Linked DNA regions of Homo sapiens. The protein of the gene in region 3 interacts with the protein of the main gene of each other region in a pairwise test. Each region holds a gene or a part of one and is shown on either strand. Other genes may lie near its edges.

Region 1 (8,583 bases), on a different chromosome or scaffold from region 3:
AGAGACAGCAGAGAATGAGGGAGAGCACCATGAGGACCTGCACCGCCTTCAGCCAGCCTGCAGTAAGGAGGACACAGAGGGGGACATCACCGTGGGTCCAGAGTTCCAGCTTCACCTGCTTGCTCACCATGTGACCCTTCTCTGCCCCATCCCTGCTCCCGTTTAGGCCCATACAAGCCTAGATACTTAGATGTATCACTTATTTTGACCTTGAGCCCTGTTACCTTGCTATATTCCCTTCTCAGTTCTAGTAGTTGCTTTGCCAATTTCCTTTTTCTTTTTTTTCTGAAACCAGGTCTTGCTCTGTTGCCCAAGCTGGAGTGCAGTGGTATAATCATGGCTCACTGCAGCCTCGTCCTTCAGGGCTCAAGAAATTCTCTCACCCCTGCCTCCTGAGTAGCTGGGACCACAGGCACAAGCCACCACAACCTGGGTAATTTTTAAATTTTTGTAGAGACAGGGTTTCCCTATGTTGTCCAGGCTGGTCTTGAACTCCTGGGCTTAAGTGATCCTTCCTCCTCAGCCTCCCAAGGTGCTGGGATTACAGGTGTGAGCCACTGTGTCTGTCTGCTTTGCAGAATTTTAATGGATTTTCTACATAAACAACATGTTTACTGGGAATAGAGACACTTTTTCCTAATTTATTTCCCATGCCCTTTATTTCTTTTTCTTGCCTTCTTGCATTGGCTACTCCAGTAAAAGGTTGAATAGAAGTGGTGAGAGCAGACCACTTCCTTTAATCTTAGTTTTGCATTAAATCTTTCACACAGAACTTTAGATAGATGCAGCTCTATTCCTTTAGAACTCCAATGCACCTGGCCCCACCCCTTTAGAACCTTAAGTGGTTTCAGCCCCATCCCCTTGGAATTTGGATGAAATGGTCCCAGGCATCCATTCAGAGCACCAGCCCCATCTCCTTAGAGCTTTGGAAAAATACTCTTGTCTTCTCAGAATCTTGGGAGATTTTTCTCTATTCTTTTTTTTTTTTTTTTTTTTTGAGACAGAATCTTGCTCTGTTGCCCAGGCTGGAGTGCAGTAGTGCAATCTCAGCTCACTGCAACCTCCACCTCCTGGGTTCAAGCGATTCTTCTGCCTCAGCCTCCCAAGTAGCTGGGACTACAGGCGCACGCCACCATGCCCGGCTAATTTTTTTGTATTTTTAGTAGAGACGGGGTTTCATCATCTTGGCCAGGCTGGTCTCGAACTCCTGGCCTCGTGATCTACCCGCCTTGGCCTCCCCTCTCTATTCTTTAAACCTATAGCATGCTTTTATCTATATGGCCTCTTCAGAACAGGAGGTACTGGCTGGATGTGGTGGCTCACGCCTGTAATCTCAGCACTTTGGGAGGCTGAAGCAGGTGGATTAGCTGAAGTCAGAAGTTCAAGACCAGCCTGGCCAACATGGTGAAACCTGTCTCTACTAAAAATGCAAAATTAGCCAGGCGTGGTGGCACACACCTGCAGTCCCAGCTACTCGGGAGGCTGAGGCAGGAGAATTGCTCGGACCCCGGAGGGAGAGGTTGCAGTGAGCCAAGATTGCGCCACTGCACTCCAGCCTGGGCAACCAGAGGAAAACTCGGTCTCAAAAAACAAAAACAAAAAAAACAAGAGGTAGGTACATCCAGACAGGCGGGACATGCATTAGCCCTAGGCACTCAGCCACTCAGGCCTGGACCCCGCCCACTCCAACTTTGTTGGGGGAGGGTTCCCAATTCTCAGTCCCATGAGGACACGAAGGGTTTACCTTCCCCTTTGAAGACCAGTCCCGCCGCCCTCACCCCTCACCATTCTCGCTGACATTACTGCAGGCCCATGTTTTGGTGTCGTTGTTCCACGTGCAGTCGTACCAGAGATTCAGGGACTCTTTCCCAGGGAGAGTCCACCAGGACTGGGATGGACAGAGAACGAAACAAGGGGCAGGGTTAGGAAAGGAGAGGGGATAGGGTCAGGCAGACTGTGGGAAGGGCTGGGAAAAGGGCAGGGTATCTGGGATGGGGCAGAACTGGGGAGAGTTAGGATTTAATATGAGAGGGGGTAGGGTCAGGACAGGGAGGAGGCATCGGAGGTAGAGCTAAAAGGGTTAACCTGGTGGTTCATGCCTGTAATCCCAGCACTGTGGGAGGCCGAGGCAGGTGGATCACTTGAGGCCAGGGGTTCGAGACCAGCCTGGGCAACATGGTGAAACCCCGTCTCTACCAAAATAAAAAAATTAGCCGGGCTTGGTGGCAGGTGCCTCTAATCCCAGCTACTTGGGGGGCTGAGACAGGAGAATCGCTTGAACCCGGGAGGCCGAGGTTGCAGTGAGCCGAGATCGCACCACTGCACTCCAGCCTGGGGGACAGAGTGAGACCCTTGTCTCAAAATAAATGAAATAAAATAAAAAAGAAATACTAGGTAAAGGGGGTGGGGCCAGAATGCCTTTAGAGGAGGGGCGTGGCAAGATTCCAAAGGGGAACAGAAGGGCCCTGAGCTCCAAGTAGGCTTACCTTGTCCAAAGTGGCCACGAAAAGCAGTATAAGAATGAGGATGTGAAGGGCTGAGACCACCAGCAAGAGGAGTGACATGGCTGCAGTGGAAGCCTGGGGAGGGGGAGCAGGGGACGGAGTCTCAAGAGGTTGGCACAGGCCAGGCACACTCACGCCTATAACCCCAGCACTTTGGGAGGCCGAGGCGGGAGGATCACCTGAGGTCAGGAGATCGAGACCAGCCTGGCCAACATGGTGAAACCCCATCTCTACTAAAAATACAAAATTAGCTGGGTGTGGTGGTGCACACCTGTAATCCCAGCTACTCGGGAGGCTGAGGCAGGAGAATCACTGGAATCCAGGAGGCAAAGGTTGCAATGAGCCAAGATCATGCCATTGCACTCCAGCCTGGGTGACAGAGAAAGACTCCGTCTCAAAAAAAAAAAAAAATTTGGCATAAAGGCAGGTGAGATGTCTCCTGATGGAGGAAGGGCATGGGTGCAGACTCCTGGGTCTCTCAGGGAGGAGACCGCTGGGGCCTGGATTCCTGAGATCCCCATTGGCTGGAGGGGTGGAGAGGGCCAAAGATGGACTCTTGGGTTCCTTGAATGAGGAGGACTAGCAATGTGGCTCCTCTCTCCCCAGAACCCTGACTCTGGGTTACATACAGGCCAGATAGTGAAAATTCAAGTTGAGACCCCACCCTGCACCCCGACATCAGGATTGAGGAGCTGCCCCCAGCAACAGGCATTCTTGACTCACACCACTCCTCTCCTGGGTTGAGGGGAGGAGGGGGACCTGGTGAGTCATCTGGTGACTCATCCCCACCCCCCCCCATCTCTAAGCACCAGGGAAACCCCAGCCCCTGGCTATGTCCACGAGGTCCTCACCCCACCCTGCTGCCAGACTGGTGACTGTTGGACATCTTCTGGAGGAAATGGATAGGATTCGCGCTGGGGGGAAGAGAGGCCCAAGAAGGAGTTAGCCTCCCAGGACTCTTTGGTGCCCAGGAACAGGGGACCTAGAGGTCTCCCAGATTTGGGGTGTTCTCATGCAATGCCCTGATCTCAGGGACCCCAGAGGACAGTGGACACCGCTGAGGGAAAAACTGCAGGAAGTTTTCCAGTGGAGGGCTCTGCTGGGACCCCAAAACTTTGCCGGGCCCCACCCCTTCCCATATCCCCACCTCAAGTGCTAAGAGATCACTTATTAAATTAAAAGGATTTCCAAGAGTCAGGGACGTCTCTCCCAGCCTGGGGGTGTCCTTCCCAAACTGCTACATTCCCAAGTAAATTAAGAAGTCCCAGCCCTGAATAACGGACTGGAAACTTACCGAGAGCCGCGAAAAAAGTCAGAGCTGGAGTCGGAGTCTTGTCCCTCGCTCGGGCCTCCGTGCCCCGCCCTTCTCCTCCCTCCTTTCACCCTCCCGAGGCCCCCGCCTCTCTCACCGCCTTCCTCCCTCCCTTGCTCTCCCCTCCAATCCAGAACCCTTTCTCTCTCGCTCGCTCTCCTTCTGCGTCTCTTCTCTCCCTCCTGCCCTCACTGTCTGGGCCTCCTTCTCTCTTGCTCCCGTTTCTCTTTCTCTCCTCCTCTCAATATATACTGACCCTTTTATAAACCCACCCTCACCGCACCCAGCTGAGGTCGGCTGCCAGTGGGAGGGCCCAGGCACTCCGGTTCCTCTTTCTTTGGGCCCCCACCCAATCCCTCCAGACAGACATCATCTGGGGCTCCCTCCCAGGGTTGAGATGAGAAACTCTTGGAATGGGGTTCTTGGGGGGGGCAAGCGTCAGGGGTGGGAGGGCCCGATTCTCAGGACCCTTGAGTTTTGAGGTCTTGCCCTGGGGCCGGATGTCTGCTTTCCCTGATGGAGCTTGGAGCTGGATAGGAGTCTGGGAAAAGAGGCCAGATTTCTGTGGCATGGACTTGAGATTGGGCTGGTGAAGTTGGCCCCGTGGTGGGGGGTCAGAGGATGGGAGATGAAATTTGTGAAACTCGGCAGGGCGTTGTGGCTCACGCCTGTAATCCCAGCACTTTGGGAGGCCGAGACGGGCAGATCATCTGAGGTCAGGAGTTCGAGACCAGCCTGGCCAACATGGTGGAAACCCGTCTCTATCAAAAATACAAAAATTAGCCGGGCGTGGTGGCGGGCGACTGTAATCCCAGCTACTTGGGAGGCTGAGCCATGAGAATCGCTTGAACGCGAGAGGTGGAGGCTGCAGTGAGTTGAGTTTGCACCACTGCCTTCCAACCTGGGGGACAAAGTGAGATTCTGTCGCAAAAAAAAAACAAAACAAAACAAAAAACAAACAAACAAAAAAAAAAACCTTGTGAAACTCTGGAAGCGGGGAGGAAGCGGAAGCTAAGAATCCCAGCGCCATCATTTCCTGGTTCAGTGACCTTGAGCCAATTATTTCACCCACCTGGGCTCCAGTATCTTAGTCTATGTTGAGAGTATAATAATGCTGACAAAATACTAATACTGATAATAATAATTCTGATACTTATGCTGAATGAATAAGGTAATACTGGCACACTCACACACCTAACCTGTTCCTTCCTTCATCAAACATTTATTGAACATGTACTCTGATCTGGGAGTTAATAATGAAAACAGACATGAGCCCTGCTGGTATTATGGAGCTTGTATTCTAGTAGAGGAAGACAGACAAGAGAAAACATCAATGATGAAGATAAATCTCAGATAAGGATAAGTGACTTGAAAAATAAATACAATAGGCTGGACGTGGTGGCTCATGCCTGTAATCTCAGCACTTTGGGAGGCCAAGGCTGGAGGATCACCTGAGGTCGAGAGTTCAAGACCAGCCTGGCCAACATGGTGAAACCCTGTCTCTACTAAAAATACAAAAATTAGCCAGGCATGGTAGTGGGCGCCTGTAACCCAGCTACTCAGGAGGCTGAGACAGGAGAATTGCTTGAACCCGGGAGGCGGAGGTTGCAGTAAGCTGAAATCACGCTACTGCACTCCATCCTGGGTGACAGAGCAAGACTCCATCTTAAAGAAAAAAAAAAATAAAAGAAGAAAAGAAAAATAAATACAATAATAAATCAAACAGAGTGATGGAGATAATGACAGAGTGCAGGGAAGACTACTTGAAACAGGAAAATCAGGGAAGGCCTCTTGGAGGAGGTAACATTTGAGCTGAAGACAGGAGTCATTTGAACGCTGGGGTTGGGGAGTGGTGGGGGGGCGTCGGGGGGAGAGGAAGTGCAAAAGCTCTTAAAGCTTTTGAGAACAAGCTCAGGTTGTTTAGGGAGCAGACAGAAGGGCCAGTGTGGCTGGAGCACAGGGAGACAGAGGGAGTGGTGAGAAGGGAAATCAAAGGGTGCCCTTGAAGACTAGGGGAGGGGCTTGGATTTCATTCTAAGTGCAGTGGAAAGCCATTAGGTTTTAACAGAGTGTAGTACCAAAGATTTTTATTTTTTTTTTGAGATGGAGTCTTGCTCTGTCATCCAGGCTGGAGTGCAGTGGCATGATCTCAGCTCACTGCAACCTCCACCTCCCGGTTCAAGCGATTCTCCTGCCTCAGCCTCCTGAGTAGCTGGGATTACAGGTGCCCGCCACCACGCCCAGCCAATTTTTGTATTTTTAGTAGAGACGGGGGTTTCTCCATGTTGGCCAGGCTGGCCTCGAACTCCTGACCTCCAGTGATCTGCCTGCCTTGGCCTCCCAAAATGATGGGATTACAGGCGTAAGACACTGTGCCTGGCCCCAAAGGTTTACTGTTAACTATTATTATTAATTTTGGGGATATTAAATTAGGGTCGGGGTGATGACTACTATGTACACGAGTCTCTTGGGAGGGGACCAGGTGCCCAGAACTCTGATAAATTGAGAGCAGGGGAATTCAAATCCTGGATCCAGGGAAGGGAACTGGATGATGGGATGTCTGGGTATCTGATGGGCCAGAGCTGGGTTTGGGATAGCTGTTGGTGATTCGGGCTCCCTGAGGGGGTGAGGGATGGACAGTTCAGTGCTTGGCTGGGTACCCCAAGACCTGGAAGCTGGAATACCAGTATAGCACAGACTCTAGAGCCACACTGGTTGGACTCAAAATCCAAGCTGTTTTACTCAATGGCTGTGTAATTTTTGGCAAGTTACTAATAACTTCTCTATGCCTCAGTCTCTTCATCTGAAAAATAGAGATAATAGTAAATACATTATAGGGCAGTTCTTAGGGTAGTGCTAGTCATATCAGGCATTGGGGCTCTGAGTGGAGTCAGTACTGGGGGACCCTGATTCAGGATCTCTAGGAGTTGGGGAAGGGGCAAATTCTTGGGTCCATTGGGTCTCAAGGCTAAAGTTGGGAATCCAAAATGAGGGTCCCTGGGGGAGAATAAGTAGTCTCAAACTTAAGTGCCTGAGAGACAGAAACTGGGGTCCGCACTCAGATCCCTAAGGAAGTTGCAAAGTCTGGGTCACTGAAGGAAAAATTAGGGGCTGGGGAGACATACGTTCCTCTTGGGGAGCAGGAAAAGAGGGCTCCACTTTCTTGAGAGGACTAGGGGGAGCCAGGGGCTAGGAAGATGGAAACTTGAGCCGGGGAGGTGAAAAACACGAGTCTAGGACTCAGAATCAAGTTCCCTGAGTGGGATCGGCGCCAGGCTTGGGTACCCTGGGGATATTAGGGGGGTCCCCGCACTATGGCTATGTAGAAGGGGAAGAATCAAAGGATCTGAGGGTGGCGGCGGGATCTCCCCATCCTGGGCCTCCGAGATTATGAGCTGAGCTGAGCGTACGCAGGCCGCTTCCTCCCACAGGAAACCGCAGGCTTCGGGCACACCCAGCCTGCAGGGAGAGGCGCCCACTGCCCGCCCGCCCGGGGAGGCCCACGTGGGCAGCAGCCGCCGCCGCGGAGGGGGCGTGCCTTACAGAGCGAGTGGGTGTAACCAGAGGGGGCGTGGCCAGAAACCGGGGGGCGGTATGGAGTGCCCGAGGTCTCACCCACTTCCGCCCTCCAGCGCGCGGACGTGGTAGGCGGCCAAGCGTTTTTGGCTGCTTCCCGGGAAGCCGTTGGTCGCGCTTGCGTAGTGAACCGCTGAGGCTGTGTTGAGCGCTCCTTCTCCGCGCAACTCCCGGCTTCGACACCGCCTTCCTTCCTATGAATCCTTAATTTAACGTGGTCACAGTCAGCTTAAGACCGGCACCTCTCGGGCTCCGTCTTGTAGGACCTCGGCCTGGCTTCGAGGGCTTCCATACAGGTCACCGCAGGCTCTTTCAACTCCCGCCGCTTCCAGGCCCGCGGTACTAGTGAGACCTCAGCCTCGACCTCCCCAGGACCATTTCGACCTCCCGCAGGCCTTCAAGGCCTGAGCGCCTCCCGATTAGCCCGCCCTTCACCGCCCTTCCACCGGGCCCCTCGTAAGGCCTTCCAAACGCGACCCTCGAAGCCCGCCCCTTACGGGGAAGCCCCTCCGCTCGCTGTCTGCGAAGCCCCGTCCTGTACTGGTGTCCGTGCCCCTCCCCTCGCCGGCCCCGAAGCCCCGCCCCTCGAAGTTCTTCCCACTCACTCTCCTCACAGGTCTCAGCCCCGCCCATCACAGCTCCCTACGGCACGCCCCTCTCAGGCCTCACAGCCGTGCACCTCTCAGGGCTCCGCAGCACCGCTCCACAGGCCCTCCCGGCTCCGCCCCTTTCAGGACCTCGCCGCCCATCAGTTTTGTTTGTTTGTTTGTTTGTTTTTTGAGACGGAGTCTCGCTCTGTCGCCCAGGCTGGAGTGCAGTGGCGGGATCTCGGCTCACTGCAACCTCCGCCTCCCGGGTTCAAGCGATTCTCCTGCCCCAGCCTCCTGAGTAGCTGGGATTACAGGCACGAGCCGCCATGTCCGGCTAATTTTTTGTACTTTTAGTAGAGACGGGGTTTCACCATGTTGGCCAGGTTGGTCTCGAACTCGTGACCTCAAGTGATGCGCCCGCCTCGGCCTCCCAAAATGCTGGGATTGCAGGCGTGAGCCACCGCGCCTGGCCTTGCCCATCAGTTCTCAGTCCGTGGGAACCCTGCAGGTCTACGCCTCGCATCCTTCTCCGCCCCTCCTCCCATAGTTTCTCCCGCGGCCTCAGTCCCTCCCTGGCCGCTGTCCTCAGTCCTCATTGGTC
Region 2 (8,534 bases), on a different chromosome or scaffold from region 3:
CTTAATCATTCTAGAAGCAGTAGGCACCCCTTTTCAGAGCACTTTTCCCAAACTAAATCTAGTTAGAGGATATCACCCTGAACCCAAGAAAATGAGACTTAAGCTAAACTTAGGAAAATGTACATAATATAATTTTAAAAATGAATTCCTCACAACACAACATAGAAGAAGAAAGAGGTACCTAGATTTGAAACCTGGCTCTGCCACTTTAAATAAAATACAAATACCTGAGAGATGACTGTGTTATGGGTAGTACATGTTAGATGCTTGTGTTAATGTGTCCCTTTCCTCTTCAAACTGAGCACATTGTGTGCGTCAGTTCAGAAGGAAGGAGCCCAGGTTCTGGAGTTAAACCCAGAAACAGGGCCAGTCTCTGAACCTCCATTTCTTTTTTTCCCTCCCCATTTCTTTCTCAGCAAAATTAAAAAGTGACTTGTGAAAAATATCCTCCATGCTCCTCTTACCAAGCCTGCAACTTAAAACCTATGGTTTAAACTGTGCTTTCAATTATCTGGAGGAGGCCAGCACTGATGAGCCCATCCTGAGCCAGTCATTTTAAGGCCAGTGCTACCTAACTGAGACAAGGCTAATCTGGTCGGTAAGTATATTCTGCTCTGTGACTATGGAATGGGGAAAAGCTAACTGACCCTTACAGAGATACCATTGATTATCCGTTTTTAGGACACTTTACATGTTGCGAGGTGATTTCCAATTTCCAGTATCAGATTGGTGTCAAAGCCTAGAAATTGTACAGCGATTAGGAGTCGACTGGGTGCCACACAATGTTTATGTACATAATTTTATGACCAAGACAAGTGATATTTGGCACCTGAGACTAGGGGGAGATTTCTCCTGTAAACGAGCACCAAAGGGCTCCATGCTATCAGGTATAGGGAGGAGTGGCAAAGGGGTGAGGTCATTGTGATCCCTTCCCTTCTCCTCCCTGAAAAAAAAACAAGTATGGTGTGTTTCCTGCAAGCCCCAGAATATGTGAGCCTTAGCTCACTCACTAAGGGAGGCTGACCCTAGGAGTGTGCATTTGTCTTAGGAAAGAAAGTGTCAGCCCATTTTGAGGTAACTCTCGAACTTCGGGCTTCCTCATCTTTGGCCTCCAAAGAATAACGTACATAAACATAAAATGCGATGCAAAATGTATGGGGTTGTATCAGGATGGCAGGAGTTTCGGTGTATATTCTGATTTTGAGACAAGAAAATCAATTCTTCTCATCTGAGGCCAGAATGGTAATTAGTTCTTGTTGAAGTGAGAGATTATTTACTCAGCTCTATTTTTTTATGTTTATGTGACCTTTCATAGTTACTCAGAACAAAATGGGGTAAGAGAATGGGGATTGTAATGTGAATCTAAAAGATGTATGTTTCCCTTTCTATATTCAAATGGATCTTATGAGATTCCCATACCTAGAAATTGACCACCAATTAGTAAAATACAGATTTATATCTAAGGCACATTCATTGTTCCTCTTGGTACTATCAGATCTCTCTATTTAATGTCCTAGACCTCAAAGAAAAGTGTTTTGGAGGAGAAAAAAAGAAAAGGAGGAATAATAACATGACCTGCTATCCAAAATGAACACAGAAGCACAGATCACTTTCCAAAATGTCCATGATTTCAGAACATAAATGCAGGCACACCCTTAAAAGAAGCATTAGAGAGGAGAAAACCTGGCCAGCTTCCCAAATCTCCCTGCATCCAATTGGACTGGGTGATGACTGAGATCAAAGGCATGTGGTGATTGGACAGAAGGCCAAGAGGAACTGGCATCCTCAAGGCTGCTGGAAATTAGCCAGCTCAAACACACCAAGCAAAAGCAAATTGGAAATAAAGACAGGCGAGTAATCAAATGCACATGGGGGCATGCTTCACAAAATGCGAACTTCATGTGTTCCCAGAGGAGAAATTGCCAGGTCTTCAACAGCACAAACTCAATAGGAAAATCAAAACATCCCCTTTTGCAACCTTAGAGCCTGAATCTTTGGCTTCCACTTTAGGGAAATGGGCAAAATGACCTCTTTGTCATAGTACACACCATGCTCCCTGCCCTCCTCCACTCCCAGACCCCTCTCCCCTAAGTAACTTTGTCTTTCATTTTGTTTCTAAAGAAAAAAAAATGAGATTTTTGCAATTTGGGGCATTCTCTCTGGAACAGCAAATGTTCCCAGCTCTGCCGTTTACAATGCCTTTGGTGGAAGGTCACCTCGGAGGTGTGATTTTTCAGTATAACATAATTTCTATGGTGCCTTGACATCCTCCAATGAAGAGCACCAATAGGACCACTCCTCTGACATTAGGGAGAGGGTCCACTCAGGCACCAAATGCCATTCTCACCACTAATCCTAATCTTCCTTGTACTCCTTTTATTACCTGCATGTTATTGGGAAAGAGGATGGTTTATGGTCCCATTCCCCTACATACACACTTTCCAACCCCATACTCCCTTAGAAATGTAGAGCAAAGATTACGAATTCTTTTCTGCAGGTTCTGATTCACAGAGGGAGAGCATCAGAATGGGGGCTTTGGATAGGAAAAACCTTGCAAATTAGTGCCTGAATAAAGATATAAAAAGAGAAAAGTGAAGGAAGATATTCTTCTCAAACTTGATGCCCTTTCTCTCTGTCTCTGTCTGTATACACACACACACACACACACACACACACACACACACACACACACACACATATATATGGGTTACATTTTCATGGAGGACAACAGAGTAAAATCCAGCAGCATTTAAGGGATTTCCTCTTGCCAAATTGTCTCCGGTCCCTTAATTGTGTTTAAGCCTTGCTGAGTACTTTGTTTACGGTCCCTAATGTGGTGATTTGCATCCCCCTGTCTGGGTTGCTCTTGGCAGGGCAGGCAGCTGTCTCAGTCTAACTCTGGCTGGGAAAGGTAAGGATCTTTGCTTTGCTTTTTGAAAGATCTGGGAAGGAAATGTTGAATGTCTATGGGGGTTAGGGGCATAGATATAATTCATGCATTGGAGGCTTTGAGAAAAGTTCTCCAAACTTAAAGGAGTCTCCTAAAGCCATGTGCTTTAGAAAGAACTAGAGAGATTTCCTCTTCTTTGTGAAAATAGAGGGCTCGCAGAAATAAGGCTGGTTGCATTGTGGATGAAATTTTGCATTTGGGGGCAGGTGTCCCCAAAGGATGCCCAGGGGTGTTTAATACTTTGTAGACACAGAGTGGAAGGAGGAATAAACATTCAGAAACAACAGGCATAGATCACTAGGAATTCTCTTTGAATTTCAATTTGAAGAGGTAAAGTCAGTTAAAGCTGCATGTGTCAGTGGTTAGGATGACAGGCTTCTATTCTTCTGATACAATGTCTGCTTTATACCAAAACTTTCTACCTCTTTGAATTTAAAATACAAATCATTGGTTGTCTACTCAGAGTCTAGAGATGTGTACCTGTGTATCAAGGCAGGTGCACACACCCTGTGGAGGAGCATTGGTGTGAATGAGGCACCTGAGCCTGACAAGGTTGAAGAAAGCTTTGGTATTGGAAGTGATGACAGATTTGTGCTCCTAGGACACAGACACACTCACTGCGCCTCATTATAGACTCAGTCAAGGGCTTACTATGAAAAAAGCTGCCATTGTCCTCTCTCTAGACGTTCAATGTTTGCACCTTTAGCTTTGGTAACAGGAAAGCATGCTTTTCAACAGAATAAGGTGATATTCAGAGCTTCAGTGCAGTTATTGGGCTATCTTGCAGGCAAAGTGGTACTAGAAAATAGAGGGGAATTGCCCTCAAGGGCCAGAGTTTGCAGGTGAGAAGACAGCTCTGTTAAGGAGCTTCTCAAGAACCTCCATTGTACGTAGCCAGCGGCCCCCATCTTACCATCTTCCGGGGGCAACTTTGGCAAGTTCTGAAATGCCCTGGTTCTAAGTATTCCTGACCCTCAACACCAAGTGACGGTACTCCTCAGATATGAAAGCTGTCTCTTTAGGTCTGACATTTTTAAAGTGTGAGGATCATGGTGACCAAGGCCTCCAGGTACTTGCCATGACTCCCCCAACCTCAGGGACTTTTCAACTTTATTTTTTATAAGGACATAACCCTCTCTCTGGCTTTCATTCCAGAATAAACAACTTCTGGTCCCTCTCTTTTTGTGACAAGTCATCAGGGTATTGCTACAAGGCAAGGCTGGAGAGAGTGTGCTGTGGTAGAGGAGAGGCGAGATGTTTGAGAACATCCAAGCCCTTTGCCAGCTATTAGAGAAATCTAACAATTTGAGAGAAAGATGGAAAACAAATCTCTTCCAAGAGTTAATTTGGATTTGTGGTTCACAGTATTAATTAGAAGAGGTTATTAACACTTGTGCAGATGAAAAAATGGAGGATGTAAACTTTTAACTACAGAGTGTAGGATGAGCTCCCAGTATTATCTTTTCTCCTCAAAAAGACAATCTTGGGCTTTATATGTTTCAAGGTTTTAAAAATTTCACAGTTTGTCTGTAAGAAAGCATAAACCTATAAAGTCACTTACAGGTTTATGGGGTGGGAAATAGATGTTTAACTTTATTGTTTAAGTATGATGTGTCAAGTTGTATATGTTTGAATGTTTAAAATACCTTGATCCTTAAAGTGGGCCAAGGAACAGAGGTCTCAACATAGGTAGGGAGCTTGTTACAGACTTACTGAATCAGAATCTAAATTTAACAATCTCCCCAAATGATATATATATCCATTAAAGATTAGGGTTCAAACCAAGGGTGTCTCTGTTACTGGGTGATCTTTGTTAAATTACTTAACCTCTCTGAGCCTGTTTCCTCATTTATGAACTAGTGAGAATTAACATTAATATGTGACATTTCTTAATATTGTGCCATGTCCACAGTAGGTGCTCTATAAATGGTAGCAATTATCATGATGATGATAATCTTGGTGCTGCTAAAGTTACCTCCTTGCAAAAGCAGTAAACAATCATGTTTAAATCAATATAACTGGCTTTCCCCCTTAACCACAAACATTTGTGCCTCCCACCCTCATTCCTAAATGAATTAACACTCAACAAGTGGGGTTTTAAGCTTCAGATGACTATCACGCACATATAAAGAATAATGGAAAACCTAGGAACATGGATTTTTGCTGGCTTAGAGACTGAATTCAGCTGCCTGATGACTTCACAGCTGTTTCTGCCACCCTAGAGTATCTGTCCCCTCGGCTCTGTCCCCTCAGCCGGGTCTGCAACGCTGACTCTGGGATTTTCTTATAAAAATGCCTGATGGACGGGAGGAAGATCTGGAGGTCGGCGGGGGAAAAAATGAGTCATTCAAATTCACAAAGCAGTCCGCTTAGTAAATGCTGCAAGAGAAAAAGTAAAAGCTGGCTCCTGTCTCTGGGGAATCTGTAGAAATGATTCGGACTCATCATGTCACTGAGCAAAGCTGGGGGAAGCCAAAACTCAGAATCTGCTGGCAAGGAAAAGAACGAAGGAAAAAAAAAAATGTTAGGGAGGGGCAAACCCGAGGGGGAGGGAATAAAAAGAGAGAGGGAGGGAAAGACAAGCGTCATTTAGGAACAGAGGTAGCCTGAAAGAAGCAGGAACTCCAGGATCCCAAACCAGAGCAGACCCTATAGTAAAGTATTTTTACATCTTTTCCTTTCCCCAGAAGAGATCCCTAACCTATTGTTTTATTGACAGCCTTGCTGTTAGAGGCTCTTTCCCAGAAGTTGGACGAAGAGGCTCAGGCGTTGCTGTTTCTTGTCTTCCAAGTCAAGTGGTTACTCTGGTAATGGATTGCCTCTCTCCGAGGTGAGTGTAAGTAATTTGGGGACAGATCTTGATTTTCAGGTTAGCTCAATCTCAGCTTTGGGGTGAAGTTATTTTTTTCAGACATAATCTCAAATATCTTTTAACTGGCCTCACCAGAAGTTAGGGTGTCATTGGACAACAGTGATTAATTAGTTTGGTGATTAAAAATGACATGTGAGTAGGCAGCTCTAAGATTTAGTTTCATTGCTCAGGGAGTGATATTTTGACTTTCCAGAGCAGGGAAGAACCAGTGAGGTTTGATTTGGAGTTGAATTTGTTTTCAGTGGATGCTTAATATATTTAAAGTATGAATCTCATTGAAATGGTCTCAAGTATCTTTCTTTAAACTTGTTCGGTAACTACAACTGCTCAACTGTGTAGCAGCTAGACAGCTTTTTGAGAATGGAAGACAGTGACTCAACCATGTCTGAGCAGCAGACAAGTTTTCACTGATTTCTCATAGACAGCATTTCAACCAGATACTTTTGATCAAAAGTCTCAAGCTTTGTCCTGAAATGTTCAGGTACGAAATACTTAGAAAGGGTCATTGCAGCAAGTTTTATACACAAAGGCATGGAGGAAAATGAAGGTTGTGAAAGTTTCCTGAAAACCTAGCATGCTTATTTGTTTCTGCATGTTGTAGTATACATAATATCGAAATTTTGTGTTGAGCTTAATAGAAAATTTGTGAATTGACAGCTAATTACTCAAATAATTGATTTTATTTTGCCAAGAGAAAGCACAAAATTATATCCTATGAAGGGGTTGAATTTTTTTTTCTTATTTTTTCTCTTTTATAGCAGATTGGAAGATATTGTTACACTTCAGACCACAAATCCCCACCTCATTTTCAATGAATTTTTTGCTGAACTGTCCACCTAAAGTGGGTAATAAAAAGATCCCAGGGAGCAGGTTGCACTGTGTTTAATAGTAACACAATAAAGATTTGTTGGCTGTCATTCAATGGAGAAGAACATCATTTGTTGCTGGCCACTTGCCTTGACATTGATTTTGTGGGCAGCCAATGGGTGATAGTTTGCAAAGAATGCATGTTATGCCCAGCAAGATTGGCGGAGTCTGAGTTGCTGTAAGTTCTGGGATTAATGGTACGAAATATTGTTTGTAATGTATTCTCCTCTTGAATGAGACCATCTTTGGATTAGGATTCAGGCATTTCTGTGTATTCAGAGGAAGGAGAAGCAATAGACAAAGCAGAAAAGCTTGTAAAACTTTTGTAGACCGCCAGGGTATATTAAACACTGTAAGTGCTTCCTGCTTTTTCTGTCTTCCCTTCATATGCATCTGCTTCATCTTATTTTTTGCCTAAATGCAAAGAGAATGCAACCAATTCAAAAAAAGAGTAAAGTTGCTTTTCACATGGATCTGTGCCTCCTAGAAAGGAGGTGCCTCCCCAGCTTTTCATTTCTGCTTACAGGGTGTACATTCTGATACATGTAGCTGACATCTCCTGTTATCTTCACAGCTTTCACCCTGGTGAGACTGTCCAGATCTAGTCTGTAAACCCAGCTTAGAAGCACTGTTGTAAAAATGACTGAAGAGCCCATCAAGGAGATCCTGGGAGCCCCAAAGGCTCACATGGCAGCGACGATGGAGAAGAGCCCCAAGAGTGAAGTTGTGATCACCACAGTCCCTCTGGTCAGTGAGATTCAGTTGATGGCTGCTACAGGGGGTACCGAGCTCTCCTGCTACCGCTGCATCATCCCCTTTGCTGTGGTTGTCTTCATCGCCGGCATCGTGGTCACCGCGGTGGCTTACAGCTTCAATTCCCATGGGTCTATTATCTCCATCTTTGGCCTGGTTGTTCTGTCATCTGGACTTTTTTTACTAGCCTCCAGTGCCTTGTGCTGGAAAGTGAGACAAAGGAGCAAGAAAGCCAAGAGACGGGAGAGTCAAACAGCTCTCGTGGCAAATCAGAGAAGCTTGTTTGCTTGAGACTGAATACGACCAAATGGGCCATTGGGCCTGGAAAACGTGCTCTGACTTTGTCACCCAATTCACCCAGAACCATGGTGGGAGAGAACAGACTTGGCGTTGGAGCAGACTGGAAGAATGGGGGTGGGAGGGTGGAGGGGCTTCTCCTTTGTGAGGAATGACTCATGTCTTCTTTAACGACAAACTTAACCCTAAGGGCTACTTCTGAGACTGAAAAATCAGCTTTCTATTTACATGAAACACTTTGGGGGTCATGGGAGTGCACAGCATTAGACAGTATTTGGTTCACCCTGTAAAGTAGCCAAGAAAAGATGAGAAAAATCAAGATAGGCCTGGCACACTAGACATTTGCCTCCAAAAGAAATAACCTACAGTCTTAAGATGTATCATAAAAATGTTCTGCCAAGGATCTAAATTACCTTGGGTTTCGCATATGTCTATGAAATTCTGTGATAATTTTTTTCAATACATTGATTCACTGGCGTCTGTTTTCATTTTATACTTTTAATAACTCATCACTGGTGGTACTTTATCTTGAAAAGTAATATTTTTTATATTTTAACATTGGACAGTGTTAGCCAGTTGTAATGATGTATCAGAAGTAAAGAAAAACCCATTAAAGTTATAGCTAATAGATGCTGTTGGGGGTTAAATTAATAGTAAAATAATCCAATATAGCACTTTTGATGATTTTTATATAAAAGTCAACTGTACATTTCATTCAGAATAATAAATACTTATTGCTGCTAAAACTTCTTAAATGGTTGTTTCTGCTATAGTTATTTCTATTGCAGTTCCAAA
Region 3 (4,405 bases):
AGCCTGGGTGACAAAGCGAGACTCCAGCAAAAAAAAAAAAAATCTGGGTTGGTATAATAAAGACACAGTGACATTCTAGATTAAGGGGTTGGTTCTTATATGAAAGCATCTCAATCTTTTTTTTGAGACAGAGGTTTGCTCTTGTTGCCCAGGCTAGAGCGCAAGGGTGTGATCTCAGCTCACTGCAACCCCTGCCTCCCAGGCTCAAGTGATTCTCTTGCTGTAGCCTCTCTAGTAGCTGAGATTACAGGCGTGCGCCACCATACCGAGCTAATTTTTTCTGTCTGTATTTTTAGTAGAGATGGGGGTTTCACCATGTTGGCCAGGCTGGTCTCAAACCCTTGGCCTCAAGTGATCCACCCGCCTTGGCCTCCCAGAGTGCTAGGATTACAAGCAACAAGCATGAGCTACCACGCTCGGCCTATGCATCTCAGTCTTAAATTTTCTTCTAGGTGGATTTAGGGGTTTGTGCTCGTGGCCCTAAAAATGAACATGAGAAAGGCAGGGAGTACCTGCTTAGTTGCAATAGGCCTTGTTTAGGCTAAAAATAAGCTCGATACCTGTATTTTATATACTGTAAAGAGCATTAACCATAACCTGCCTGCAACAGCCTCTGTAGGTAGAAACAATTATGGAGGTGTCAAGTAAGAATAAAGAGCTGATAACATCAAATTTGGTTTATTTCAAGTTTGTAACAAAATATATTCTAGGCAACTTTTCAGACATTGTTTTATAGCATCATAAACCCCATACCACTGCTGTCATTCCAAAAGCTGCCAGGACACTGGAAGTTATCAAGTGGTCCAGCCCAGGAATACAGGTAGAATTCACATGATAGGTGATAAGAAAGCAATGTCTGTGGGCCACTCTGATCCCTCTTTTTACCTTGGTAGGTAAGGTATGATCTTAAGACTATATGTACTGAGTCCTATTAGTCAGTGAAAAAGATTAAAGTGACAAGTTATGTGCTTTGTTCCTATAGCTTTGAAGTTCATCCACCTCACCAGCAATTGGAAGGTCTCAGGTCTTGCAGGCTCTACCCATGTGTAATCCTGGGGCAGGTGTGAATCTTGATTTTTTTAAGAGATTACTCAAGGGAGAGAACAACAGAAACGGAAGCCATGAGTACTGCCCCAATTCTAGATTAGGTTAGAGGTTAGAATAAATTAACTAATGGGGAGTGGTAGTGGGTAGCAGTCAGACCCAGGAGACAGATTTGTGTGGTTTCCTGATCTCAGCAAGGTCTAAGGAAAAAAGCCTCCCCGCCCCCCCACCTTAAATAGTGGCATCAAGTCATGAAGGCCAGTGAAACGTGGTTAGTCTCGTAAAATGACTTCCAGTTCTTCCAGGTCCTTCTGGATAGCCAAATCCTAGGGAGACAAAGAACAAATCTAGGGCTCAAAATTTAAACCAGCATTTTCCCAAACCAGTGGAACCTAAGAAGAGGGGCCCTTTGCTTCCTTCCTGAGCTCTGCTACAGTCTTTTTCCTACTTCCCCAGGATAGCCTGGAGCCTATTAAATCTGTCTCTTCCCCTAGAGGTAGACTCTTTTTTACTAGGGAAATAAGACCTCTAGGAAAGATTATTTTCTAAAAATGTCACATGATGATTCAGTGATGACAGGCAGTTTTGTTTGGTTTTTTTTTGAGATGGAGTTTTGCTCTTGTTGCCGAGGCTGGAGTGCAATGGCACGATCTGAGCTCACTGCAACCTCCACCTCCCGGATTCAAGCGATTCTCCAGCCTCAGCTTCCCGAGTAGCTGGAATTATAGGCGTGCGCCACTAGGCCCAACTAATTTTGTAATTTTAGTAGAGATGGGGTTTCTCCATGTTGGTCAGGCTGTCTCGAACTCCCGACTTCAGGTGATCTGCCCAACAGGCAGTATTAAAAAGCCTTACCTCCTTCGTGACATCTGGCAGCTCCAGGGCCAACTTCATCCACCATCTAGCTTCAGAGTTTTTCCCTAGTTCTCTGTAGCACTGAAAAGAGACAACAGTGAAACCTGATACTGTGTACTTTCAGGAGTTCCCAGATCTATGTTGAAGTAGACAAATGAGTTTACCTTGGAAATATATACCCTTCCTGCTTTGGAAAATCCTGGCTGTAGTTCTTCAGCCTGGGAAAAGGGACAAAGATATTTCAGTAAGAGGTTCCTATATTCTAATCAGGCTGAAGTTTATTAAACTAGATTTCTAGTCCCCAACCATGTGGCTGATTCAGTGGGTCTGAAGAAACCTATATTTTTGATAAGCTGTGCAAGTGATTCTGGTTTTCCCATAGAACAGGCAAACACAAAATTGCCCCCGACTAGGAAAACCCCTCCCATTAAGGGTCTCAATAATGTCCTTAGGAAAAAACAAGGTTACCCTGGTGTTTTTGCCTGCCACCTGCCCCTCTCATACCTTTAGGAAGCTCTGGAGGGCATCTTCCACAGTGGCACTGAGAGGGCTTTCAAGCAAGGCTGTAGCAGTTTTTTTTTCTAGCCAGCTCAGGTGAGAGACCTGCCACAAAAAGATCAAGGTGTGTATAAGAGGTTTTAAAAGGTTTTTTTTCTTTAAATCTTTGGGGATATATTGAAAATAGGGTCAAACGGGGCTGGGTCGAACCACCAATAATACGAGCATTCAGAAGAAAGGGCACCTGAGCCAGAGAAGGCTGAGGATCTTGTTCTTCCTGGCAAGGAAATCGGTGTCAGAAGGCATTTAGGACCATTATGTCAAGCACTGAAACGCAGCTTACCTGATAGCACCACCTGCCAAGAAGAAAGTGAGCCATGGGGTTTTCTGGCTGGAGAGCAATGGCTTTGTCCACATGCTCCTAAGGGGAAAATGTAAATATAAACTAACATCAGACACCAGAGTTGCTAAAAGAGAGGCAAGGGCCGGATGCAGTGGCTCATGCCTGTAATCCCTGCACTTTGGGAAGCTGAGGCAGGTGGATCACCTGAGGTCAGGAGTTCGAAACCAGTCCTGGCCAACATGGTGAAACCCCATCTGTGCTAAAGATACAAAAATTAGCCGGGCATGGTGGTACATGCCTGTAATCCCAGCTACTTGGGAGGCTGAGGCAGGAGAATCGCTTGAACCCAGGAGGTTGCAGTGAGCCAAGATCACACCACTGCACTCCAGCTTGGGCGATAGAGTGAGACTCTGTCTCAAAAAAAAAGAAGAAAGGCAAGTCACTGAGGCTGTAGAAAAGTTTTTGGCAGGGAGCTGGAAAGGAGTGGGGAATCTGGGATAGGCCAGCACAAGGAAGGAGGAAAAGCCTGTCCTCACCTTGAAGCTAAAGCCACTCTGGATGCGCCTCTGGATGCTCTCATGCTCAGCCAGCTGACCACAAAGCACCGCATACCTAGGGGGGAAGCAGCAAGCTCAGGGACAAGGGCTGAGTACCATCACTGCAAGGAATGGATGCCCCAACCACAGCCTAGTTGCATTGTCCCCTATCCCTGTACCCTCAACTAGAGCTGAAAATACCTAATTTTCATCTGTACGTAATCCCCATTCTTTACGGACCTCTGGCCCCAATTAGTATTCTTTAGTAGATAATGGTAGGCTTACAAGTCTCCAAAGTATTCTAGGTATAAAAAAAGCTGGGTTCACCACAGTAAATCTCTCTTACACAGTAAATCTCTCCTACACTCATAAGGAGTACAGCCACAGGCATTAATAAAAACTTGAAAAGCATGAAAACAATCAGCATAAAAGTATGAGACCTGACTATACTACTTATCTTCTGGGCAGACAAAAAAGTGGGTCTCATTAGCCTTTAAGCATACAGGTGTATCACTGGGACTTGGGAAGCAATTTCTTAGGATAGTCACATTGGGAGGGGATATTCTAGGAATTTCTGATGTTACTTGGAAACCAACAGAACCAGAGGAAGAAAGACCTCCTATATATGCCTTCTCCCCCACATCCCCCCTCCCAAAGGGAACCAGCCAGCCAGCTTCCCATCATCTGTCTTCAGAAACAAAGTCTTACTTCCCCATCCCCCCAGCATTGTTCCTAGCAGCACAGTTGACATTCGATGAGTAACCAGCCCAAGTTGCTTTTTCATGTATATGCTAAGTATCCGGGGGGTATCAGATACTTCTAGAGGCTCATTTCCATGTTTAATCCAAACAGCTGTTCCTCAGGAATAGCTGTTCATCCTTGGAAGCCCAGGGAAGCAGTGACACCCAAGAAACAGTTACCTGGCCTCTGAGAAGAACCCTTGCAGAGACAAAAGTTTCAGCAACAGATGGAGAAACACAGCCTCTCACTTAGCTCACAGTCTGAGGGTGGAGACATGGAAAGCAAGGGTGGCGGTGGGAAAGGAAAGGAACATTTTCACTAAAACTCAGGTGCTGGAACCAGACCCCAGGATATGAGTTAGCCGTGGCCCAGGTAAGCTGACAGAACT
Region 4 (9,266 bases), on a different chromosome or scaffold from region 3:
TAAATGGTGCTGGGAAAACTGGCAAGACATATGTAGAAAGCTGAAACTGGATCCCTTCCTTACACCTTATACAAAAATCAATTCAAGATGGATTAAAGACTTAAACATTAGACCTAAAACCATAAAAACCCTAGAAGAAAACCTAGGCTTTACCATTCAGGACATAGGCATGGGCAAGGACTTCATGTCTAAAACACCAAAAGCAATGGCAACAAAAGCCAAAATTGACAAATGGGATCTAATTAAACTAAAGAGCTTCTGCACAGCAAAAGAAACTACCATCAGAGTGAACAGGCAACCTACAGAATGGGAGAAAATTTTTGCAACCTACTCATCTGACAAAGGGCTAATATCCAGAATCCACAATGAACTCAAACAAATTTACAAGAAAAAAACAAACAACCCCGTCAAAAAGTGGGCGAAGGATATGAACAGACACTTCTCAAAAGAAGGCATTTATGCAGCCAAAAAACACATGAAAAAATGCTCATCATCACTGGCCATCAGAGAAATGCAAATCAAAACCACAATGAGATACCATCTCACACCAGTTACAATGGCGATCATTAAAAAGTCAGGAAACAACAGGTGCTGGAGAGGATGTGGAGAAATAGGAACACTTTTACACTGTTGGTGGGACTGTAAACTAGTTCAACCATTGTGGAAGTCAGTGTGGTGATTCCTCAGGGATCTAGAACTAGAAATACCATTTGACCCAGCCATCCCATTACTGGGTATATACCCAAAGGACTATAAATCATGCTGCTATAAAGACACATGTACACGTATGTTTATTGCGGCATTATTCACAATAGCAAAGACTTGGAACCAACCCAAATGTCCAACAACAATAGACTGGATTAAGAAAATGTGGCACATATACACCATGGAATACTATGCAGCCATAAAAAATGATGAGTTCATGTCCTTTGTAGGGACATGGATGAAATTGGAAATCATCATTCTCAGTAAACTATCGCAAGAACAAAAAACCAAACACCGCATATTCTCACTCATAGGTGGGAATTGAACAATGAGAACACATGGACACAGTAAGGGGAACATCACACTCTGGGGACTGTTGTGGGGTGGGGGGAGTGGGGAGAGATAGCGTTGGGAGATATACCTAATGCTAGATGACGAGTTAGTGGGTGCAGCGCACCAGCATGGCACATGTATACATATGTAACTAACCTGCACATTGTGCACATGTACCCTAAAACTTAAAGTATAATAACAATAAACAAAATAATAATAATAATGAGCTATTTATGACAAACCTATAGCCAATATCATACTGACTGTGCAAAAGCTGGAAGCACTCCCTTTGAAAACTGGCACAAGACAAAGATGCCCTCTCTCACCACTCCTATTCAACATAGTATTGGAAGTTCTGGCCAAGGCAATCAGGCAAGAGAAAGAAACAAAGGATATACAAATAGGAAGTGAGGAAGTCAAATTGTCTCTGTTTGCAGGTGACATGATTGTATATTTAGAAAACCCCATTGTCTCAGCCCTAAAACTCCTTAAGCTCATGAGTAACTTCAGCAAAGTCTCAGGATACAAAATCAATGTGCAAAAATCACAAGCATTCCTATACACCAATAACAGACAAACAGAGAGCCAAATCATGAGTGAATTCCCATTCACAATTGCTACAAAGTATATTAAATACCTAGGAATACAGCTTACAAGGGATGTGAACAACCTCTTCAAGGAGAACTATAAACCACTGCTCAAGGAAATAAGAGAGGACATAAACAAATGGAAAAACATTCCATGCTCATGGATAGGAAGAATCAACATTGTGAAAATGGCCATACTGCCCAAAGTAATTCATAGATTCAATGCTATTCCCATCAAGCTACCATTGACTTTCTTCACAGAACAAGAAAAAACTACTTTAAATTTCATATAGAACCAAAGAAGAGACTGTATAGCCAAGACAATCCTAAGCAAAAAGATCAAGATCAAAGCTGGTGGCATCACACTACCTGACTTCAAACTATACTACAAGGCTACAGTAACCAAAACAGCATGGTACTGGTACCAAAACAGATATATAGACCAATGGAACAAAACAGAGGCCTCAGAAATAACACTACACATATACAACCATCTGATCTCCAACAAATCTGACCAAAACAAGCAATGGGGAAAGGATTCCCTATTTAACAAGTGGCGCTGGGAAAACTGGCTAGCCATATGCAGAAAACTGAAACTGGACCCCTTCCTCACACCTTACGCCTTATACAAAAAATAACTCAAGATGTATTAAAGACTTAAATGTCAAACCTAAAGCCATAAAAACCGTAGAAGAAAACCTAGGCAATACCCTTCAAGACATAGGCATGGTAAAGACTTCATGACTAAAACACCAAAAGCAATTGCAAGAAAAGCCAAAACTGACAAATGGGATCTAATTAAACTAAAGAGCTTCTGCACAGCAAAAGAAACTATTATCAGAGTGAACAGACAACCTACAGAATGGGAGAAAATTTTTGCAATCTATCCATGTGACAAAGTCTAATATCCAGAATCTACAAAGAACTTAAACAAATTTACAAGAAAAAAAACAAACAACCCTATCAAAAATTGGGTGAAGGATATGAACAGACACTTCTCAAAAGAAGACATTTATGTGACAAACATATAAAAAAAACCTCATCATCACTGGTCATTAGAGAAATGCAAATCAAAACCACAATGAGATACCGTCTCACACCAGTTAGAGTGGCGATCATTAAAAAGTCAGGAAACAGATGCTGGAGAGGATGTGGAGAAATAGGAATGCTTTTACACTGTTGGTGGGAGTGTAAAGTAGTTCAACCATTGTGGAAAACAGTGTGGCAATTCCTCAAGGATCTAAAACCAGAAATACCATTTGACCCAGCAATCCCATTACTGGGTATATACCCAAAGGATTATAAATTATTCTGCTATAAAGACACATGCATATATATGTTTATTACAGCACTGTTCACAATAGCAAAGACTTGGAACCAACCCAAATGCCCATCAGTGATAGACTGGATAAAGAAAGTGTGGCCCATATATACCATGGAATACTATGCAGCCATAAAAAGTATGAGTTCATGTCCTTTGTAGGGACATGGATGAAGCTGGAAACCATCATTCTCAGGAAACTAACACAGGAACAGAAAACCGAACACTGCATGTTCTCACTCATAAGTGGGAGTTGAACAATGAGAACACATGGACACAGGGAGGGGAACATCACACATGGGGGCCTGTCGGGGGTTGGGGAGGCAAGTGGAGGGAGAGCATTGGGACAAATACCTTAAAACCTAGATGACAGGTTGATGGGTGCAGCAGACCACCATGGCAAATGTATACCTATGTAACAAACCTGCATGTTCTGCACATGTATCCCAGAATGTAAAGTACATTAAATAAAAATTTTTAAGTATGCAGCTCCTTCCCATTCTCTCTTGCTCCTACTCCAGCCATGAGATGTGTGTGCTTCCCCTCTGGCTTCTGCCATGATTGTAAGTTTCCTGAGGCCTCCCCAGAAGCCAAGGAGATGCCAGCATCATGCTCCCTGTACAGGCTGTGGAACCGTGAGCCAATTAAATCTCTTTTCTTTATAAATTACCCAATCTCGGGTATTTCTTTAAAGCAGCGTGAGGACGGACTAATACATTTTCTTCACTGCATTTATAAGGATACGGAAGAAAACAATGAACATGCAAAGACTGGAAAGAGAGGAAGGAAGCATTAATACAGGGTACAAAAGGAAGCCGGAGTTCTAGATATAATTCTGAGACTCAAGTGTAGTCAGGGTCTGAGCTTCACCTGGGTTTCCACAACTGATAGTAAGTATCAATGAATAATAATAGGCAACAAAGCCCAGAGACAGTGAGACATAATCAAGAGCTAATAGAAATGTAGAGGAAAATAAAGACAGAAACGGTTACTTTTCAATAGGAAGAAGATCCCAGAAAGCACCAGTAGGAAAGTGGAAATGTGGGACGGGAAGGGATAGTAGCCAATGCAAGTTGCATTAATGAGCACATTACCACTGTATACGGTGATGAGGATGTTCCCACTGCAGACAACTGGGTCTCAGTCCTGCTGGGGACTCAGCAATTTGTATGCAGTACATCACAGAGTTGTCTCACGTGGTGGACAACTTGATAAGTTGTGGTGTTTATCCATAAGTCCTAACTGACATTGATTGAAATCTGCTCCTAGGATATCAGCTCTGACAACTTCAGGCTGCTGCATGCATTACCTACATATACTTTTGTAGTCAGATAAACCCTCTGACAGAGAGTTATGAGTGGCTGAAGTAAGACATCATACACATGCATGGAAACAATAAATGGCCCGGAGCTGTTGAAGAGGCTCTGAAAGCGTCTTTATGAAAGGTACACGTCAAGTATCAAAGACTTATTCAAAGCTGATCTATGTGGCTTGGGCTAGGATGAGGCTAGTGAGAAGCCCTAGGCACCTCACTCTTAAGAAAACACTCACTCCCAGGGTCACCCACCTACAAGATCTGCACTTGGGTGACCTGAGAGTGAGTGCCTCCTTAAGCTGTGTGCTCTAGATGCCCCACCTGCCTCACAATAGCCCCAGCCCTGCCGGTCTACTGGGAGAATGACAGGCTCCCTGTTTCAGCAATGATGAATGGAAACAGTGGACATGTCAGATATCCAGGAGACTCTGTGCCCCCAAAAAGATGGGAAACAGTAAAAGCTGGGTCTCTTCCCTACCAGAAAAAAAGTGGTCTGGCATGAAAGAGGTTAAAAAGCAGATCCTATCCAGTAGGGTAAGACTCGGGTTATTGTCTTCCCCATATACTCCAGAAAGCCAACTCCAGAAAGTTTAAATGAGTTAGGTGAGGTCCTATAGCTGGTTAATGACCTAACCAGATATGCAGCCTGCTCCTCTGTAGCCTTCTTACCACCCAGTGATTCGCTTTTTTGCTGACCTCATGATGCTCTTGAGAGAAGATAGAATAACTAGAACTGGTGATACCAACATAGACGACTAGACTAAAGCCTCCTAATAAGGCTAAATTGAAGATAGTGCGAAGGTGTTCATCCTCAACATACCAGTTCACCCTCAAGTCCTTCAATAGCTGGGAAAGCCCTCCTCTCTCAGAGAATGATAAGACTTTGCCTTCAGGTTTTTCTGGCAGACTGGATCTGGGGCTGGCACTGGCCACATGAATGTCTAATTAATGGACAGATGATGAGAACAGCTATTACGTTATTTGTTCCGGGGCAGGAGACTCTCTGGGCCTATTTTATATGGGGAAATGTCCCTATAGGGCAAAGGCAACTGAAGATTAGCTCAGTAATCAATTTTAGAAGTACAGTCAGGCCTCAGAGACTACAACATCCCTCCCTTCTTAGAGCATGGCAAGATATTTGACATCATGAGGCCCTGCTGGAGACACATAACCTCAGTCACAGCAGAAAGTAGAGTCGGTAGGAGAAGTATTGCCAACCCACAGCTCAATGGGAAATGTTTCTGTCTCTTTAAACCATAACCATGGGGCCCACCCTGAGCTTCCTGATTTCTGAAGTCTGAGTGATTTCCTCCGTGTGCCGAGAGGAAACAGCCTTCTGCACTCACAGCCGAAGGGAAAGCAGCAGGTTGGGGCTTCTTGTGGCCAACTTCAGAGCCTGTCACCAGGAAAGGTGAGCCTGAGCCTGGGAGTGGCGGGGGCTGGGGGTGCTCTGAGAACCAGAAAGAACATGATTCCTAGAGTGTTTACTGCCTGAACACTTGCATTCTACAAGGCATCATGCAGGCGAGCAAGATCTGGAACAATCAAGGACATACTTCCAGGTTTTTAAGTAGGCAAAGTTCAGAGGAAATTTTAGGATCATCTTCTCCAGCTCTGGAGCACACACGTTCTTGGTGGGGAGTGAAATCTGTCTCCTCCCACATTCCCTTAACAAAGTAAGAAAAGAGTGTGCTGGAACCACCTCCAGGAATAAAATACAGTTTGAAAGGCATTAAACATTCCTCAAGCTCCCTATTGAGCAAAGGCAAAAGATATTTCTATGGCCCCATAAGCCATCTAACCTCGGAGTGAGTTACGACGTGACAAGACTGGGTACATTTGAACTCTCCTCCTCACTGTCCACAGAAGGGGCCCCTGAGGAGACATCTGAGATTAATATCTTGGTCTTCAACCCCTTTCCCTGCATGGCCCCTTAAACATCTGCTCCCTTAATTCAAGCTTCTCCTGCTCCAGCCACGGGGACACCTCAAATTCCCATCTGTACAATAAAGGGGGTTGCAAAAATGACTGATGTCCAAGTTCTGAGCTGTGGACATCAGAAACATTTAATTCATGAATCAGAATCTCAGGATGGATCCAAGAGATGTACATTTTTAAAGAACATTCAAGTAATTCTGAGAAGCAGCACATTTGAGCGGTGAAGAACTCAATAAACTTTGCGGTCTCTTAAAGTGTTAGGAATACAGGATTCTATAAGTGTACATTCCTCAATGATTAAGGGCCATTTGTCACCTCAGAGTTCAGCTGGGTCTTACTTTCCTTTAAAAAAAAAAACTATTTAAAATCATTTCAACCCCTCTTCTAAACTATGGAAAATTCCAAAGGCCTATCCAGAATTCTGCAGCACTGGAAAAAGAAATTCTCATTTTCTTGGTTGACAAGGACATTTTGCTTCATCTAAATTCTTTTCTCTGAATCTTGCAACTGTTTCTTCATTTCTGCTTTGATGTCATTTATGATCATCTGTTCATTCCTACATGCAAAATAATTAATCACATAAGGCCCATGGAGTGAATTTTATTGAAGGCTTTGGGGAGGGCCAGTAGAGTTCCTGCAGAAACAGAAACAGCTCTAGATTTAATATGAGGCAAATCTGTTCTCCAAGTCCTTCAATCAAAGACAAGTTACTCAGCCAGCCTCTCTCTCTGCCCCTCCTTCATGTGTGGTGCCAATGGGAGAGAACACAGGTATCCAAGTGACCAGGGTGCAAGACACAACAAGTTTGACATGGATGGTGAGGCACAGACAGATGGTCGGGGAGGATCAATAGTCCTAGGAGGGGAAGCCGAGTGGGTTGGAAAGGCCCTGAAATCTGCTGATTGTGAAGTAGCTGACCGAGTGGGGTATTGTCTGGGAATGAGGCTGGAGACATAGATGCAGGGAGAAGTGAATTTGTGTTCAGGAGCTTGTGTGATTAGGCAAACTGGATCACAGAGGGTTTAGCTGTATTACACAATGTTAGATTTCAGCATAATCACATTTGGAGGGGAAGCAACTTCAGGAGTTGAAGGGAAGTGTTCAAGTCTCTCCAGCACAGATATCGTATTTAGACATCTCTAAACAAACCAAATTATTTGATTTTAAGAAAACAGAGTTAGGGGCCCTCCAGATCTACTTGGGAGATCTGTTCAATTTCCAAAAGAAAAATCCCAATTTTCTTCTTTCTTCCCAGGTCAGCCACTTGAAGGTGGGTGCCTAAGTCACTGGGCACATTTTCTGGTTCTGAGGGTTTACCTAATCTTCCCCCAGCTGCTGAATCCCCTGATATCTCTAGCTTATGTCAGTGATATAGAATCACCCAGGGAAAAGTAATACCTAAAGCCCATTGGCATTGAGTAAATGTTATAACCGACCCTCTGCTTTTTGCTTTTGGAGTTCCTGAAAAGACAAATCTAGCCTCACCCAATGTTCTCACAGCATCCTACCAACTCAAGGGCAGGGTGTTGGCCCTTCCAAGGCCATTCTCTCAAGTTCCGATATAATCCTTACTTAAAGAAGGATTAGCACAATGTATTATATTTGACGAAATTTACCTGTCTTCTCTCTAGCCACGTGCCCTTCTGCCAAGACATACACCTAGATTTTTAGATCCTTGCAAGCAAAAACCATGTCTTTTCACTGTGCTGTCACCAGCTCTTTGGACTTTGCCTGACACCCTGTAGGTGGTTATGCCTATTTGTGGTTATGCCTATTTGAGGAATAAATAAATGAATTAACAAATTGTGTTTGGGACTCTTCCAGGTAAGCATGGGAGGAAGGAAGATGGCGACAGATGAAGAAAATGTCTATGGTAAGACCATATCTCTACACCTCATACTTGCCCCCCTAGGCTTGAACTTAGGGTAATAAGGAGAATGGGGCTTCCTCAAGACTGAACAGAGATAAGTTCCAGAGGTGTCTCAACTCTGGGATGAAACAGCACCAGCCCTGAGATCTGCATTTTAGCTGGATCTCTGCTGTGAGAAGTTAAGTTCTGTGACTAGCCTGCTCCCTTGGTTCCACAGTATAAAATAAGGATAATAAACCTACTCCGATCACCGCAGAAGAAGTGCAGAGGGGATTAAATCATGCACTACAGTGAACATGATTTGTGAGGTAGAATGTTTAGAGAACAAGGATAGAGGGTTAAAACATATATTCTTTTTAGGCAGCCAGTTTAAGAGAGAGATAAGAGAGGAAGGAGAGAAAGAGGGAGAGAAAGAGAGAAGAAGGAAAGAGGGCTTATTTCACCCCCTCAACAGGCCTCTGAGAAACAGGCCCCTATTATCGCTCCCACTTTTGCCGAAGAGGCTTAATACTTAGATTATGCAGCTTCCCCAAGGTTACACAACCAGCACGTGGTGGGGCTGTGATTCAAACCAGGGTATCTGGGACTCCACACAGCTCTTCACTACCAGGCAGTATTGCCCCCACTGCCTGTCTCTGGGGATGGTCTCTGGGAGAATATTTCAGAGTCCATCGAAATTTTCAAATATGAAATAAATATGTCTGCATGTGTGTGGATGACCAGAAATGTCAGATGAACTATTGGGCTGGACTGATAAAGAAGCATTTCTATGATAATCAACTGTAGTTGGAGCATCTACTGGTGCAGGCAGACAACCCAAATACAAAAGGAAAAGGTGGAAATGAACGCCCAGGCGTTCAAATCTCTATTCTTAACCACTTATGCTAAAGGCAAGAAGATTCCAGTTCCCAAGGGGAAGTTGGTTAAACTTAAGTAAGATTATAACACTTGGTCTCACAGGTTTAGAAGAGAACGCTCAGTCCCGGCAGGAGTCCACGCGGAGGCTCATCCTTGTTGGGAGAACAGGGGCCGGGAAGAGCGCCACTGGGAACAGCATCCTGGGCCAGAGACGGTTCTTCTCCAGGCTGGGGGCCACGTCTGTGACCAGGGCCTGCACCACGGGCAGCCGCAGGTGGGACAAGTGCCACGTGGAAGTCGTGGACACTCCGGACATTTTCAGCTCCCAAGTGTCCAAGA

The links.
Region 1: the proteins of RMDN3 (region 3) and EMP3 interact in binary tests that used the Homo sapiens proteins (3 or more experiments, as listed by UniProt).
Region 2: the proteins of RMDN3 (region 3) and TMEM100 interact in binary tests that used the Homo sapiens proteins (3 or more experiments, as listed by UniProt).
Region 4: the proteins of RMDN3 (region 3) and GIMAP1 interact in binary tests that used the Homo sapiens proteins (3 or more experiments, as listed by UniProt).

Annotation. Positions count from the first base shown.
Region 1 is NC_000019.10:48,320,826-48,329,408, reverse strand, and holds the start of EMP3 (epithelial membrane protein 3), read right to left. Parts: upstream 3,858-8,583; 5' UTR 3,799-3,857; intron 3,419-3,798; exon of another isoform or gene 3,356-3,418; intron 2,580-3,355; 5' UTR 2,565-2,579; coding exon 2,487-2,564; intron 1,889-2,486; coding exon 1,786-1,888; intron 58-1,785; coding exon 1-57. UniProt on the Homo sapiens protein: Probably involved in cell proliferation and cell-cell interactions.
Region 2 is NC_000017.11:55,719,865-55,728,398, reverse strand, and holds the start of TMEM100 (transmembrane protein 100), read left to right. Parts: upstream 1-5,534; 5' UTR 5,535-5,780; exon of another isoform or gene 5,781-5,786; intron 5,787-7,263; 5' UTR 7,264-7,328; coding exon 7,329-7,733; 3' UTR 7,734-8,534. UniProt on the Homo sapiens protein: Plays a role during embryonic arterial endothelium differentiation and vascular morphogenesis through the ACVRL1 receptor-dependent signaling pathway upon stimulation by bone morphogenetic proteins, such as GDF2/BMP9 and BMP10.
Region 3 is NC_000015.10:40,735,225-40,739,629, forward strand, and holds the end of RMDN3 (regulator of microtubule dynamics protein 3), read right to left. Parts: intron 3,353-4,405; coding exon 3,277-3,352; intron 2,819-3,276; coding exon 2,741-2,818; intron 2,503-2,740; coding exon 2,404-2,502; intron 2,118-2,403; coding exon 2,064-2,117; intron 1,981-2,063; coding exon 1,900-1,980; intron 1,371-1,899; coding exon 1,317-1,370; 3' UTR 663-1,316; downstream 1-662.
Region 4 is NC_000007.14:150,711,019-150,720,284, forward strand, and holds the start of GIMAP1 (GTPase IMAP family member 1), read left to right. Parts: upstream 1-5,594; 5' UTR 5,595-5,672; intron 5,673-8,023; 5' UTR 8,024-8,029; coding exon 8,030-8,072; intron 8,073-9,029; coding exon 9,030-9,266. Other genes in the region: GIMAP1-GIMAP5 protein, read left to right, coding at 8,030-8,072, 9,030-9,266. UniProt on the Homo sapiens protein: May regulate lymphocyte survival. Required for normal levels of mature T-lymphocytes and mature B-cells.